2 separate regions of the Homo sapiens genome follow, and region 2 is linked to region 1. Evidence: fine-mapped expression QTL. A gene starts in region 1. The other region holds a variant in brackets. All regions are shown on one strand. Distances are from middle to middle. Region 1 holds the start of RERG (RAS like estrogen regulated growth inhibitor). Region 2 holds the start of RERG-AS1 (RERG antisense RNA 1).

Evidence for each region. PIP is the estimated chance that this variant, and not a neighbour inherited with it, causes the effect.
Region 2: its variant is fine-mapped to the expression of RERG in subcutaneous fat (TwinsUK, PIP 0.95).

Annotation. Positions count from the first base shown.
Region 1 is chr12:15,217,434-15,225,780 of GRCh38, forward strand. It overlaps RERG (RAS like estrogen regulated growth inhibitor), which reads right to left and starts at 3,984. Exons shown (of 5, transcript NM_032918.3): 1 at 3,762-3,984; 2 at 1-170. The coding sequence starts at 56. LOC124902886 reads left to right here and starts at 3,235. Exons shown (of 1, transcript XM_047429948.1): 1 at 3,235-4,545. The coding sequence starts at 3,812. The coding sequence ends at 4,129.
Region 2 is chr12:15,151,003-15,159,349 of GRCh38, forward strand. The region is part of intron 2 of RERG (RAS like estrogen regulated growth inhibitor); the gene reads right to left. It overlaps RERG-AS1 (RERG antisense RNA 1), which reads left to right and starts at 921. Exons shown (of 3, transcript NR_046559.1): 1 at 921-1,068; 2 at 3,238-3,338; 3 at 4,194-4,281. The variant A/T (reference allele first, on the strand shown) is at 4,417.

The sequences.
Region 1 (8,347 bases):
TTGCCCACGCCTGCTCTCCCAAATATTGCCAGTTTGACCTCCGCACTTTTAGCCATGATGGGTGTTGGTAGACAATTTACTGTTGTTAAAACTAAAGCACTGAGTAAATCTTTTTGGTTCCAGTCTTTGGATTCACCATATCATTGTGAATCTTGGAAGAGTCCACAATCCTTAAACAAAAGAAATTTGGGAATTCATAAGTGACTGGAAAATGAATTAATATTTATTGAGCATCTACTATATGCCAGCCACCATTCACTTTTTCAACATTTTCTGGTTTGATCTTTACCACTATCCTGTGAGAAGTCTATGGTAACTTACTGTAAATGATTTAACTAATAAATGGTAGATTCAGGACTTGGATTTGGATCTGGTTGGTACTAAAACGTGCATTATCACACACAATAGCATTTCTAAAGTACTTCCTCAAGAAATTTTCTTATGAAGGTATTGATTCTTGATAGTAACTGAAAGTAAAAGTGAATACACACATTTACCATCTATCTGTAAGCATTCAGTGTACAAACACATGCAGTGGGGCAATGGAGAGAGTCACTTTTGGGCCTCTTCATGTCTCTTTGGGTTGAATAACATACATTCATATTAGTCAACTCCAATGCAACACAATTCAATTTTGCATCTCAAAGTTAAATTTTTTCTCAATTCACACTTGATCACATGATGAATTCCTGTGACAGATACAGATACACATGTTCTAGGAATCAATATATAATACATAGATTACATTTCTATATTTTGCTGGACACAATGCCCTGGTACAAAAACGATAAATGCCATGCTCCAAGTTATTCCTTTTCTATGATGACTTCAAGTAAATTTGTTTATAGTGCTGTCTTAAAGCTTGGGAAATAACATTATGTACAAAGTAAGCACATCTTATTTAGTTTGGTGCTTTAGGAGTGACATCTAGGTTCTTAGGATCATGGAAACGTAAATTTGGAAAGAGCTTTGGTGGTGGTGGGGGCTGGAGTGGGGGTCATCTGAAGAAATCTTCTAGCCATTCTTCTAGCAAGAATCTTTCCTTAGGACATAACAATCATTCCATATTCCATGCCTGACTTACCACTTCCAGGTATGAAAGGTGGGCTCATTACTTCTGAAAGCTGCTTCATTTCTCCAATTAGGAGGAACTATCTTTCTAATATTGAGCTCTAAACTGTCTCCCTGCGGCTTCTACTCATTTGTCCTCATTTCTCTCTATGAAATAACTCAAAACAAGTCAACTTTTTCTTTCACTCAGAACCGTTCAAGGATCCTAGCATCTAGTAGGACCCTTTGCTCCATCCTAGGCTTCTTTTTTCTAGGAACATGAGGCCCAGCCTGTCCACTTGTTCTTCCCGGAATGTACACTCTCGTTTATGTTTTTTTGACCTTCACTCCCTTTTTCATCATGTGCATTGCCTCCTCAACATCTTAATCACTCTAAAAGCATGGTGTCCACTGCATTCCACTTTGAGATATGACCTGACAAACTGACCCGGTGTAAATTCCCTGAGATTTTCACTATCGTTAATCTGCCCACCATGGTTATACTGTAGCACAGCCAATCACATTAAGCCTCACATCTTTTACACGGACTGCAGACCCCCTCATTCCGAACATTTGCAATCAATGGCTTAAACCTAAATACAGCACAGCACTTTTACCCGTGTTAATCTTAATCACACCAGTCTGCATAATTCATTCCATTTTCAAGGCAGTAAAGATGTTTTAAACACAAATATGTTATCTAAATGTGTTAAATGTTCCTGCCAGATTTTTCCATCTATAAATTTTTACAAAGAGCTTCTTGAGAGAGAAATTAAAAAGTGAAAATCCGCCTGAAAAAGTATTTCTACAAAGACATTATCATGTAATTGTTTTCTTCCTTAGGTATTTAAGCTATCATCCTGTACCTAATAAGGTTTTGTATTTGCTGATTTTCAAAGTGCCAGAGCTTCCTCTGAAGGAAGGAAAAATCAACATTAACATTAGCTATTGTTTACTTCATCCTCAATAATGACAAAGTGTCTAAGTAATCATTATTAGCAAAAACCAGAAGCTTAAACATCTGCAATTTGTCCAGTCCCATATTTTTGGCTAAAGATAAAAAGATTTCCTTATTTGTCACTTTAGATGCATTCATTAAGAAAAGGCCCTATGTTTTTAAGGTTCAGGGCTTCATCACAGAAACATAATATGTGGAGATATATTAACTATTTAAATTATAAATGAGAAGAGGTGCTGGCAAGTATTTCTTTGAAACATTGAACACGCAAGTGTCTGCAGCTAGTATAAACAATAATTTTGTTTCATGCAAAACTGTTCATATACATGGATATAAAATGCAAGTAATTATCTGTCTGATTAATGTTTCATGAAAGTAGCCATCAAATGTGATTTTAAAAAAATGACAAGTCACATTTTTTAGTAACTCCCAAATGGCCCCAGAGGCATAGGAATTTCACATAAGAAAGAGAAATTGTGTGGGCTATTTTTTCCATTTATAACCTAATAAAGATACAGCTGGTTATTGTCAACCTAATTTTATGTTTAGAAAAATCACTTAAAGGAAGACACAAAACTGACAGGAGTTCTTCAACATTTTATTTCTCACATGAAAATGTGAAAAGTTACATTTGACAAGATAGAAAACAAAAATAAATATGTAAATTGTTGTAATAAGTAAACTGTTGCCAAGTTTCTGATGTTCCAAATAATTCATAATCTGAGAGCTTCCATACGTGGATCTAAGAAAATCCATTTGTCCTAATGTTCTGCTGAAATATTCTGAGTAGGGCTGAAATTTGCCATTCACTTTTTATGTGGATGGTGCTTATTAGGACAAAAACATCTCAGCTGCTATCACTCTAAAGGTAAAATCATACCTATTTAGTTTGAAGGTGTAGGTTTTTTTTTCCCTAAACATAAATTAAAGGAAAAAGGAAAAACGCTAGCTAAAATCCTGTATTATTAGTGATGCATTCATTGATTTATTCCACACTTTCACGCTATGCACATACAAATAAAAGTAGTTCCCTTCGAAGAGCTTACACTCTGTTAGACCTATGATATTTAGATAACTGTAACCTTATTTACTTACTTATTTAAAGAAAGTTTTCATTCCTAATAAATCATTCTCAAGGCTATATTTATCAAGGTTCATGCTTTCTACTTCCTCTTGGGGGTGGGGCAAGCAAGCGTCTTTATAAGGTAATCATGCTTGGAACTTCTGTTTGCATGCGCTCATCAAAATCAAGTGTAGCTATTTAGGGAAGCAAAGACCCTAGTCTAGGCCTGGAAATGAGATTCTCTTCTTTTTTGGCCTCCCCTTCTCTGGTTCTGAAATCAAGTTTTCCTGGTCTCATTACTAGGAATTCTTCCTCTTCTTATCACTACGCAGTACCCACAGCAAACCAGGATAATTGTATAAGCCCCTTGGCTATTTAATGTTGCTCTGAACTCAACAGGTATCTTGCAAGAATAAACAAATCCATTGTGGACTGCAAGTCACTTGCTTTCAGGCTAGGGAGAAAATGCAGCCTTAAGTCAAAAGGGCATTTTCCCTCTCAGCTAGGAGAGCCCTGTCAAGATAGGCTGCTGGTGTTCACATCTCCCTCGCAGCGAACCCCAAAGCCGCCCTGGGAGGAGAACCCGGTGACCAAGAGGACCGACTCAGAGGCCGAGCGCGCTCAGGGCTCGGAATGGGTCTGCAGGAAGTCGTCCCGAAAGAGCTGCCTGGACACGTGCGTGACACTCACCTGTTCACACTCTCCAGGCCAGGAGAGCTACGGTCCTCTGCAAGTTCGGAATGGGTCCCCCAAGATCGCGAAGCCCTCCCACACTGCGCAGCCCAGGCTTCAGGTTGCGTTTGCGAGTTGCTGGGCTGCGGTCGTGGGTGGGACTCGCCGCAGAAGCAAGTGCCAGTGGCCCGGCGGGGGTCTCCTCACTCGCGCTCGCTCCGACTAGCGGCGGAGGGACTGCGGCAGGACGCGAGCTGAGCCCGGCCAAGGCCGCTGCGCTCAGCGGCCAGGATGCTGCAGTGCGGCGCTTCGGCGCCCCCTACTGGGGGCAGGGGCAGGCTCCTCCCGCCGCGCTGCCTCCCAGGCTTGCGAGCTTGGGTCTTTAACGTGCTGCACCCAAGACGGGCTTCCCTTTTTCACTGGTTATTTCCAAGCCTCCAGGCTCCCACCGAAGGGCGGCTTTCCTCGGTCAAAACCTTGCCTAAGAAAGCATCACTACGTGGTGTTTTCTATTCCTTATTTCAAATGATCCTCGCAATATCTCTTTGAAGTATCTTTAATTATCTCCATGATACCCAAGAGGAAACTGAAGGAGAAGGTAACGCAAGGCTAGTAAATGGCTGGAATGAAATCCAGACTGGATTGGGAACTGAGAGATGCTAGGAAAAACAAACAAGGAATTCAATTGAAATTCTATTCATATATTTGAGAAAGTTCCAAAAGCTTCTCGTCCTCCTTACAGGATCAGCATTTATAGGATTTGCATTGGAGTCATACTCCATTATGCTCAGACCCTAACAAAGACAATTAATATGCGAGCTGTGCTGGACCTGCTTTCATATCCCTCATCTGATTTGATTTTTACACCCTCTCTTCATGTAAGAACTAGTATTATAATTACTAGCCTTTCACAGATGAGGAGGTGAGCTTCAGAGAGGCTAAATGATCTCCCAAAAACTGAAACATCTGAGCAAAGAAGCAGGAGGCACTTATGTTATTGTTTTTCCCTTATAAATCTGGGTATTCTTACCAAGATACCAAACGGCTTCCAGAAAACCAGTGTTATATAGAACAGACAGGGGCCTAGGGCAAACTGAACGATCTGTAGAATGTCATCAATGGGAAGGGAGGTAACCATGGAGGCAATTTCCAGAGTCCAGACTGACCTGGAAGGTCACTGCAGCCACGAGTGAATGGCTGAATGGAACAGCTAGATCTATGGCAAAAAGAGGAGTTGCCTAGCTGAGCAGGAGCTGCCCTGCTGGTTCTTTGAGAAAGCTCAAACATTGTATGGTTTATGAGTTTCCTGATCACTAATGTACCCCTCCCTCCACACCACATACATCTGGATTAGATGCCTCCCTCTGTATCTCACAGGACCCTGTGATCTTATCATTGTGTTTGTGTTGTACTCATTTCTGCCCCTTAGTCCTCTCCATTAATCTGTGAGCTCCCAGAAGCCAGGAATGTACCATGTGTGACTTCTGTATTCCCAGCATCATCCATACAGTGTGTATACCTACAGCCTGGCATATAGTAGGTAGTTAAAGAATACCTACTGAATTGAATGAATTAAGATAAAGAAGAAGTTGTGATAGGATATGTTTGAGCTTTTTTACATACTGGATTTAGGATAGACCATCCAGTAAGAAATTGAATGTATGGGGCTGCGACATTTAAGAAAGAGGCCTGGAAAAGAGAGAGACTTTGGTGTCTTAGCATGCAGAAGATCTTTGAAGTCTGGGATGGGATAATAATTACCCAGATTCATTATATAGAATCTTACAGAATTCCAATTACATGGAATCGTGTGGCATTAAGGTGTTCAGGTTTCACATGTTACCTTGTTTCCCCCATTAAATCTTATACTCAGGGCAAGATTTAATAAAAAAAAAAAAATCTGTGACCCTATATCTGTAAATATACTATTTACAGAGACTTGAGTTGGAATTCCCACTTTGCCACTCTTATTTAATAAGAGTTATTGACCAGCCTGGGCAACATGGGTAGAGACAGCGTCTCTACTAAAAATACAAAAAATTAGCCAGGCGTGGTGGCACGCATCTGTAATCCCAACACTTTGGGAGGCTGAGATGGGCGGATCACCTGAGGTCAGAAGTTCGAGACCAGCCTGGCCAACGTGGTGAAACCCCATCTCTACTAAAAATATAAAAATTAGCCAGGCGTTGTGGAAGGAGCCTGTAATCCCAGCTACTCCAGAGGCTGAGGCAAGAGAATCACTTGAACCCCAGAGGCGGTGGTTGTAACAAGCCAAGATCGTGCCATTGCACTCCAGCCTAGGTGACAAAAAGAGACTCTGTCTCAAGAAAAAAATAATAATAGTAAGTTTTCGAAGAGGGCCCAAGCCAGGTCCCATTTGTAGTAGTTCTTTTGGAACTTGCCTATGGAACCTGATTCTCTCCATTTTCCTGCTTAGCCCATATAACAACAGCATTCCTCCCTCAACTAGGGAGGCATTTGCATACACATCTGCAGTTCTTGATGTGCTGCTCTAAGATAGATGAAGTAGCTATCTTGGAGCCTGACTCCCACTGTGTTACATCTTCCGTATGTATCCTATATTCTGCGGGCTGCTTCCTTTGTCTCTAAAGCAGCAAAAAGAGGCACGCTCTCTTGTGCTGCCTGCCTCATGGATCAGTAAGAAGGGCAGAGGACACTTTGTACTTACGGTTCCATGACATATGTTTGCTGGGCAAGAATTCTCCTGGGGAAAGGGGAAGTCCTTGTCACATTCAAGTCTCTTAGCCTGGCCTTAGGCTTCAGCTAAAACCTCTAACACAAAACAAGTAGACGAAGTGTTGATATAACCACAAAGCATGTTAGAAACTGGAATTGTGTGTGTGTATGTCTGTGTAGCTGTTAATCATGTTTGTTATAAATAATTCAAACAGTAGAAAAATACAAAGATGTAGAAAATCATCCCCAGAATCACACTATCCAGAAATAATAACCATTGTTAACATAAGGGGACCATCATCATTCCAGATATTGTAGAAAACAGACATCCTGATGGACAGGTATGTGAAATGGCACAGATATGCTAAGTGTCATCATCCTGTAGATGCTATTTTTAATTTAAAAGTACACTTAATGAAGCAGAAGATAACAAAATTAAAGTGAACATTAAAGGCTGACCAAACTTTAGATATTTACTCACTTCATGAGATAGTCACTTACTTCATGAGATATTCACCCTAAAGATTCCTTTACAGTTTGAATTATTACATAAAACCAGATCTGAATTCATTATGCTTAAACATATATTTGTTTTAGTCAATATCAACTGACTGTTTGCTATTTAAAAAGAAGAAAATAGCTCTTTTATTATGTCTCTTTTTTTCTTCCCTCCTTCTATATTTTTACACAGGTTTCGTTTGTTCATTGTCAAGATTTGTAACATTCACTTTCCACTTATAACTCTCATTCCCAAAGTGGTTTAAACTTAGTTCTATATTTAAATAGAATAAATTTCTTTCATTGATTCTTTTATCATGTTTTTTCTATTATTGATTATTTTGATTCATCCCTTGATATCTTCATTAAGCAATGTTTTCAAGAAGGTCTTGCAGGTGCTGTATTGTATAATTGAGAATACCTGTTTCTTCCTTTTCTTGTTGTTTTTAAATTTGTTATTAGCCTACTTTTGCTTACAATGACCTTCTCCTCCTTTTTTTTCCTGTGTAGTGTGTTTTTATATTTATTATTGGTTTCTTTTTTAGATCAAGACTCATATTTGCTATGATACAAATTCAGTTAATTGTGCTTGACTTCATTCCTACCTTGTCTGAGGCCTGTTTGTTTTTTCTATAAAGCAATGGTTTGAAGGTGAGCATTGCATTCTGTCTACCATCCCGAGATGAGAAGGTGAGGGCTTCTGAGTCTCTGTGCAGCCTCTGAGAGAGGTTACATGCTCTGCTTTTGTTCTCAGGTTTTACTAAAGACTCTGTCTCAGGATTTAATGCAGGCCATCAGGATCACATACTGTTTCAGAAAGATTCCCTTAAGCCTGAGATTGCACTCTTCATTCATTCTTGGAGCCCTCTACTCTCTCTCCCAAGCCATTTCTACTATGACTACTCACTCTGCCCTCTCCTCCCATCAGAAAAGGGTAAGTGTAGTTGCTCAGTTCATTTCACTCCAAATTTGCAGACATTCTTAACTGGTGAGAAATAATACTTACGATTTGATCACTCATCAGTACTGCTTCTGGAAAGCCAGGACTTTCTATATCATGATCGTTTATTTTCTTTATTTCATTTTGAAGTTACATGGCAAGAAATTATACTCATTTCCTTATTTTGTTGCTACTAATGATTATCTTTTGACTTTGGGATGAGTATTTAATTGCTGTTACCATTTATTTAGTTAAATATTAGGCAAAGGCAAGACTGATTTTAGCTGAGATTGAACTTTCCTGTTTACTGGGAACAACTATAAAGGCTAACCAAAATATACAAAATAGCTGTTTGGAAGCATTGGCAAACAACCAAGGCAGGGCTGCACATCTGACAGAGGGGATGTACTGGAGTTTAGCCTCACAGGCACACAAATTTTCTTGTTGGGGGCATTTTAAGGGCCCATAT
Region 2 (8,347 bases), 66 kb before region 1:
TATAAATACAGAAAACAGCTTGTGGAAACTTAATGCCATGCTCCCCTTTGGTCCACTACAGCCTGTTTCTAAAATCTACCCCAGGGGAGCATTCTACCTCCGTAGGCTACATCCAAAATCAGTCTTGGTTTTGTTGTGACTATGGGTGATTTTTTTCCTCTGTATTTTCTACGTTTTCTATAATGAACACACTTAATCTTAGAGTGGAAAACTGACTTTGAAAATAAAACAAAGCAAAAACAAAAACCAATCTCGGTAAGTCAATAAGAACCACATGTCTTTTAAATGGAAAACATGCCTATTTCTCCTTTGTTTCTTAGAAGCAGCTTGCCAGATACACAGTCCACAGCTTTGAACCATTTACATAAACATACCCAAGCCAAGTGTTTCCACGCAACAGCCAAATTGCACCCATATTAGCAATTTAATGACTTTGAAAGTAATAAGTGGTAGAAACTGATATTCACTTTGCTGGAATTCACCTTAGATATTCCTTACAAACCACAATCCAGTGGCATTTGTTGTAGATTGTAGATGTAGATATTCAAGAAACTTTGAAAGAAAACACTATTCATCTTGAGATGGGGGGAAAAATGCTAAGTGGTAACAAAAGGTAGAAATCTTTCAGGTGAAATGTAATGTCCAGGAACTGAATGGTAGTGGATCATAGTAAATCATCCACCAGAGGGCACTGCCAGAATATACAAAGTTTTCTTGGAAAAGATTGGACACCCCCTAACTCTAAGCAAAGAGAACTAATATGGTTAGGTTAACAGAATTCCACTTTTATTATGCTTCCTTTTCCTTTATAAATCAGGTCAGTCTTTTCCTCCTGATGAAGGAATTCATGAACTGCATGCTACCCTTACTGTTATGACTTCTAAAACTGCTGCAACCATTTGATTGGAAAAGTATTTTACAATAAATGCTGCGTTCCATGTGCTAAGTACTGAAGTTATTACCATGACAACAAGACCACCTTCTTGCCTACAGTTCGGAGATTAATAAAGGGCTCCTGAGATAACCACAAGGCACATGAAATAACCCAGGAACTATAAATTGCAAAAGGTAAATGCTGTTTTGTTTTGCACTTAAAGTACCATTGCTGTTCAGTGAAGGGAATATTGCCCACAGATGTTTTGGAAAGCCATCTGAGGAAGGCACAGAAGGTTGTACAAATAGAATAGGCAGAAAGGAAAGCAGAACACAGCATTAGCAAAGTCATAGGAGTCAAAATTTCATTGCTAAGGAAAACTAGTGCTTTTCATTTCATATTTCTGGCTGTCCTACTGACTTGGAATGCTTCAAATGCACCAATTCACCTGCCTTAGATATGGACTGATACTTCAGTCCCATCTGCTGTAATAGGTGAGCTTTTCATATTTTCTGAAGCTATTATCCATAGTGTTTCCCCTCTAATTTCAAAAGCCTAGAGAGAAACAATATGGAAAAAACTCTTGTTTTGGACAGAGAAGGCTCTGAAGCAAGCCACCTCCTAGAGATGGAGAGCTTCATTTTGTCCTGCCTGAGCCAAGATAGGACACAGTAGGAGTTTGCTGCAAGAACACAGAACACATCAGGTTTTCATGTAGCAGTGCCCTAAGAAGGAAACTGGACAAGGATAACTTGAATTGAGGAAACCAGTCCAGCTGGAGCACCACCCTGTGGTTTCGCATGGACTAGGAATAGAAATTTGCTCTGAAGAAATGTATTTTTAAAAGTTAACCTTCACATGGTATTTGAAGTTTCATAGAACTTTTTTGGATTGGAACCAGATCTAGCATGCATGTTCTTAGGTATTAAAGCCTAATATTATTATATTACTCTTTGAAAAAAATGAATTCTTTCATCATAGTAATTTTCTTAAAATATAACACTGCTTTTTACTTATATTAAATTCTCTACTGTTTCTGATGTTATGCTACTTAGGAAAATGCCATTTTCTTGTTAAATTAATATGTGCAGACAAGTATTTACTTACCACACATGAACATGAGCCCCTTATAAGTCATCACTCCTAATATTTATGGTCTAAGAATGAGGTAGTTCGGGTGAGTCACATATTTACACTTAGCAGAGAGATTAAGAAAAAAATTCGCACCACAATTTCCCTTAAGTAATGGAAAAAATGTGACTTGTTACACATTTGTTTTCTGGGTCAGTGTTTTTCCAGCTTTTCCATAGAGTCTTAAGGTCATCCAAGGTTTCTTTAGGTTTTCCTAAAAGAAAGAACTGGGGAGTTGTGATGGGTGCTTGATTTTAAATGTGATAACAATTATCTGCGACTTTTAGAGAACACAGCTAACCATTGTGAAGATTACTGTTCTGGATAGTGAAAAATATGAACCAGCAGTATAGGCTTTGAATGTTTGAAATTGATGATCTTAAATTTCTTAAATAACAGGGCCCTAGACATGCACTTTGCTCACAAAAGAGATCTTTTACCCCAGTCTTTAGAAATTTGCTTAAAGTGGGAGAGTCTAGTATTTATAAATAAAAGGAAAGCAGTAAGATTCAGAAAAATACCATTGAGATTTATAAGGAACTAGAGAACCATAGTTCCTGGAAAATCCAGGAGTAATTGAATAGCTTTTATAATATAAAGAAAAAGAATATTCACGGTGCATTACTTTTGGCAGCCTATCATCTAAATATGGCACCCAGAATAAATGCATTGACTGAAGGGAAATTGTATGATTTGCATAAATTTTACCAATGGCTATAAATTATCCTCTCTGGTGATTTTTCAAGATAGATAGTGTTATGGGTTGAATTGTGTCCCCTCAAAGGACACTGAAGTCCTAATCTTAGTATCTGTGAATGTGACCTTATTTAAAAATAAGATCTTTGTTGATGATCAAGCTAAGATGATTTCATTGGAGTAAGCCCTAAGTGATTAAATATGACTATGTTCTTATGAAATGGGGAAATTTGGACACAGAGACAGACACACACAGAGAGATGATATGGAAACATAAGGAGAACACCATCTGCAAGCCAAGGACGGCCTGAGGTTACCAGAAGCTAGGACAGAGGCAGGGAACAGATCCTCCCTTACAGACTTTGGAAGGAACCAATCCTTCTGACGCCTTGATTTTGGAGTTCTAGCCTCCAGAAGCATGAGGCAGTAAATTTCTGTTGTTTAAGCCCCCCAGCTTGTGGTACTTTGTTGAGGCAGTGCTAGCAAACTAGTACAGTTATATATTCTGAATCCTTGTCTTTTGGCTTGCCATTTAGCCCCCGAGTCTCCCTGGCAATCAATAAAGCACAGAAGCTTTGTTCAGATTGCCAACCACCCGGTTCAGTTCTGGACAACCTCATACTGCCATCCACGTAAGGCAAGTTCCTTTTAAAGTTTGCCAGACCAAAGCAATTAAGAGGGCAAATCTGTTGGAAAAACTCACATATTGCATTATGAAGCCAAATATAAATTCTACTTTGATTATTGTTCCTTATGAAGGAGAGCAGTGTCTCTAATAATCAGAAAAGAATCAGGGATTGATTGTATTTCATTTTCTTCGAGGAAAATTTGGCCAAATAGCTAAAGTAACCTGATTAATGAGAAATTTGCAGAATGGGAAAAACACTGCAATTATAGGCAGCAACCATGGACATCCGCTGATGGCCAAAGAACATAGCCAGTCTTCTGGTGCGTACATTATGTGGCAGCTCGTTGGTCTCCTGCCAAATAGGACAATCAATGTAGGTTGAAATTTGTCTCAATCTCACTCGGCAATCATATTCATAAACACTGCCTCTGTGTCTTATTTAGGTGAGACAGCAACTTAAAGACTATTATGTAAACAGAATTTTCATACCTAGAATTTTAAAAATGTATTAAACTTTAAAAGGGTCTTTCCTAATATTTGATGGAGGAGCTTCAGAATAGTTAATTTAAATGAAATTGTAGTATTATATATTTTCATTTTTTAAAATGTTAAGTTGCTAAGTGTGAAGGCTTTAGACACTGACACCTCATATTGATTCTTGCTTTACAAAGAGACTTGGAAAAGAAACCAGTGTATGTATAAAATGATTAATTGGGATAAGAAACTCAGCTAAGAGATATTCAGACTGGAAAAAACTAAATAAAGAATATAAAACAAGCAATTAAAAAAAGGAAAAAGCAGGCATGGTGTTGAAGTATATGAAGTAATCTAACACCACTGTGTTTTTTCATCTTCATTTTCCAGTGTCTATGCTGCATTGTAACTTTTGGAAAAACATGCACACACCTGGTGCCACCTGGGTAGGTGTGACCAGAACCTGCCTGTTGGAAAATAAAGGATTAAAAAAATGAAATGAGAGAAAGTGACACATAAAAGGACAACTTAAGGTTTCCGCAAAGCAAATACATAACCAAGCTGATCAACCCTCCAGCATAGTCCTTCTGAGCTGTGTTTCCACAGGAAAATG[A/T]GGGTAGAGGCAATCACAAAAGTCTTGGCTCTCATCCACCCCTGTGGCCTGCTGACACAGGCCCAGCTTGCCAGAGCACTGGGGTCACAATGAAGTTGCTGCCAGTAGAGCTGCTTTCATTAAAATTGAGTAAGAAGAACAGGTAATGGGGTTGGGCAGAAACTAGGACCTGAAAGTGGTTGGGATTGGGGGACTCCTGTCTTCTAATTGGGAAGGCTGGGTAGGGCTTCTTGGTAGTACCTGACAATTATCTTGTTCTAGCATTTACAGCCTTTCTCTACTCCTGGAGTCACTGCAGGGCCCCCAGGGGACTCTGAAAACAGCCAGTTGTTAAGCAAGGGTATTCTCCACTAGGGCTACCATGAAGTTTATATTATAGAGCTGGATCTTTCACCCCTTTTGTGCTGTAAACCATTTGTGCACAGCCTTTGAACTATTTCTCATAATAATACTTTTTAAATATATATAAAATATATGTCATTACAAATAAAATCAACTATGATGAAATATGGCACATGTATACATATGTAACTAACCTGCACAAAGTGCACATGTACCCTAAAACTTAAAGTATAATAAAAAAATATATATATATATTTATAAATATTGATATACTGTTAGAAAAACATTTTTTAAAATAAATAGGTGATATAGTAATTACATTCTTTATTAATATGTTCAATATAATCTGGTCTTGAGCTTATTAATTATGATTTCACATTAATGATGACGAAAAATAACATTTTGAGATATCAGCAACAACTGATACGAATGGAAATATCCATCATTTCTATTAGGGACAAAGTCACAGGTATTGCTAACACTGTGATTTGTTTCTACATTCATCATGGAAGGCAGTGCCAAATGTCATTTAAGGGTGCATGAAAATGTAGATGAAATGTTTTCCCATACAAGTTCACAGACCCCCTGAAATCTACCTGTGGACCCTTTGCTGGATCTGGAGTTCAGGTTAAGAACCCTGCCATACAGGCTTACCCATCCTAATACGGAAGTTTACCACAAATACCACATCAGCTTTCATGCAATTGTATGATAATTACCAACTTTTAAAACAGTGTCACTTTAATCTCTATCTCTCTGATGATTCAGAAATCACTTCAAAATTTTCACAAGAAGTAACATTGTGAGTATCAAAAAATTTGCCCTGTAGACTTGGGGAATGCTTGTTAATGAAATTACTAGGTTCAGAAAATCTCTAATAGTTGTTAGTATTTTCTTTCTAAACAAGAATGTGCAACAAATGATGCAAGAGCAGAATGGTATTATCATTGCTTTGCGAGTCCTCAGGAGAAAGAAATAGAGTGATCAATATGATCAATAAAACAAGGCAGTTTAAGCTTAAGTCAGACCCTGAAGTCAGGCGCATTTTCGTGCAAATCTCAACCCTACTACTCACATTTGACAAGTTATTTACTTCTCTAAACCTCTAAGCCTGTATCTGAGCTACAAAATAGGGATAAAAATAGTGCCTATCTCATAGAGATATTGAGGGGATTAAACGAGGTAATACATGATAACATACTAACTCAGGCTCTGTTGTTAGAGGATCCATTGCCCCTCTTGCAAAATGGGAAAATGGAAACCATCTTCAAGTCTGTCAGACATCTCTAAGCCTGTCTTTTCTTCCAGCCTCTTTTCTTGGAGTTGCTCTACATTTTCCACTGTAGTGGATGGCCTCCGTTTTTCATTCGGCATTGCAGGAATTTTGAAGAATACACAGTTTTTGAAAAGAGACAGACAGTTCAAGAAGACAGGGGAAAACAGAAGAGGCCACTTATTTTGCATATAAGACAGATGCTCAGGGCATACCAGAATAGCTTAGAATTATTTGTAATCAGCAGATATGAGTGTAGGTCTGGTATCAGCTTTAAAATGTTTTGTAATGTTGAGAAATATTTTACAATCCATCCACCCCCAGTTTTCCTATGACAAAATGTCAAGAGGGACGTGCAAGAAGCTTGAGAACCAGCAAGTAATTTTTCATATGAATTCCCACTAGTTGGGACTGACTTGAAGGATGTAATTTATGGCCATTCTTGGGAAACAACCATGAAAATGTAGTGCTAAAGCTTGTCAGCTGCTTCCTGTCCCCTAAAGTGGTAGAGATAACTTACCAGAGTGTCCCATTTTCACTCTTTTTGGTTCCCACATTATACTTACAAACAAATAAAAACAATACAAACATGAAAGAGAACTCCAACTTCAAAGCACGCAAAGATAACTGATGACTAGGAAATAAGAGCTTTGGCTGCTTATTTGAATAAGCCAGGCTTTTCTTTTTCATCACAGTACAATGTAAATGACTGCCTTTACTGATGAGAAAATTTTGCTTTTCAACATTTTTTTGTCACTCTTTTGTATATATTTTCAAACTTAGAAAAAAGCTATGAGAAAAGATTACATAACTCTCATATTCTGTTTATCCAGATCCACAAACTGTTTACATTTTTCCCATTTGTTTTATCATTCACTCTCCCTTCTCTCTATACATAAATATTTATGTATAAATAAATATATATACACACATTCATATTTTTCTGTACCTGAGAATAAGTTGGAAACATTTTGCCTCCTTACATTTAAGTGTTTCAATATCTATACTTCATAATAAATACATTTTGTAGGATAACAAAAGTATAATTATCAATATCAGAAAATTTAACATGATGCAATGACATTATCTAATCCACAGTCTATATTTGAATTTCTTCAATTGTCCCAATCATGCCCTTTCTAGTTACTTTCCTCTCCTTGGTCCAGAATCTAATCTAGGACTGAACATAGCATTTAGTTGTTATAACTCTTTACACTCTTTTAAATTGGAACAGTTCCTCAGTTTTTTTGTTTTTTTGTTTTTTTTTAGATAGAATCTCGCTCTGTCATCCAGGCTGGAACACAGTGTTATGATCTTGGCTCGCTGCAGCCTCGACCTCCTGGGCTCATGTGATCTTCCCACTTCAGCTTCCCAAGTAGCTAGGATTACAGGCACACATCACCACACCTGGCTAATTTTTGCATTTTTTTAAGAGATGGGGTCTCACTGTGTTGCCCAGGCTGGGATCAAACTCCTGGGCTCAAGCGATCCACCTACCTCGGCCTCCCAAAGTGCTGGGATTACAAGTGTGAACCATTGTGCCTGGCCTCTCAGCATTTTTTAATGATATTTCATCTTTGACATTTTTGCAGAGTATAAGGAATTTTGAAGAGTACACAGTTTTTCAAGAGAGATAGACTAAAATGTCCCTCAGTTGTCTAATACTTCCTCATAATTAGATTCGGATTAGGTATTTTGGGGCAGAAATGCTACAGAACGATGTGTGTCCTTCTTAGTGCTTCATATCAGGAGGCATATGTTGTTGGTTCATGTCCCATCATTGGTGACATGAACTTTATTTTATTAAGGTGGCATTATTTTATTTTATTTTATTAAGGTGGCATTTTTTTAGAATTTTCCAATGTAAAGTTATTATTTTTCTATCTGACAATTAATGAGCAATTTGTGGAAGATATTCTGAAACTATGTAAATATCCTGATCCTCACCACACTTTCACTCATTAGTTTCAGCCTCCACTGGTGACTCCTGCCTGAATCAATTATTTTGATAATTTCCGAATGATAGTTTTCTAACTTGTCATTTCTTCTACATTTATTGGTTGATATTCTATTGTAAGAAAGAACTTGTCTTTCTCCCTGTTGATTTTTTTATACACTTACTGTTTATATCAACAGGGAACCATGTATTCTTTTTTTGTTCAATGGATTGTAATCCATTACTGACATTACTTTGTCTCAGAAGTCACCAGGGAGAGTCCTTTCAAGCTGGTTCTTGTGTCCTCTTGATAGGTCCCTACCATTTGTGGCCTACAACCACAATAGTAGTTCATGCTTTTGCATAATTTGCTGCCTTAC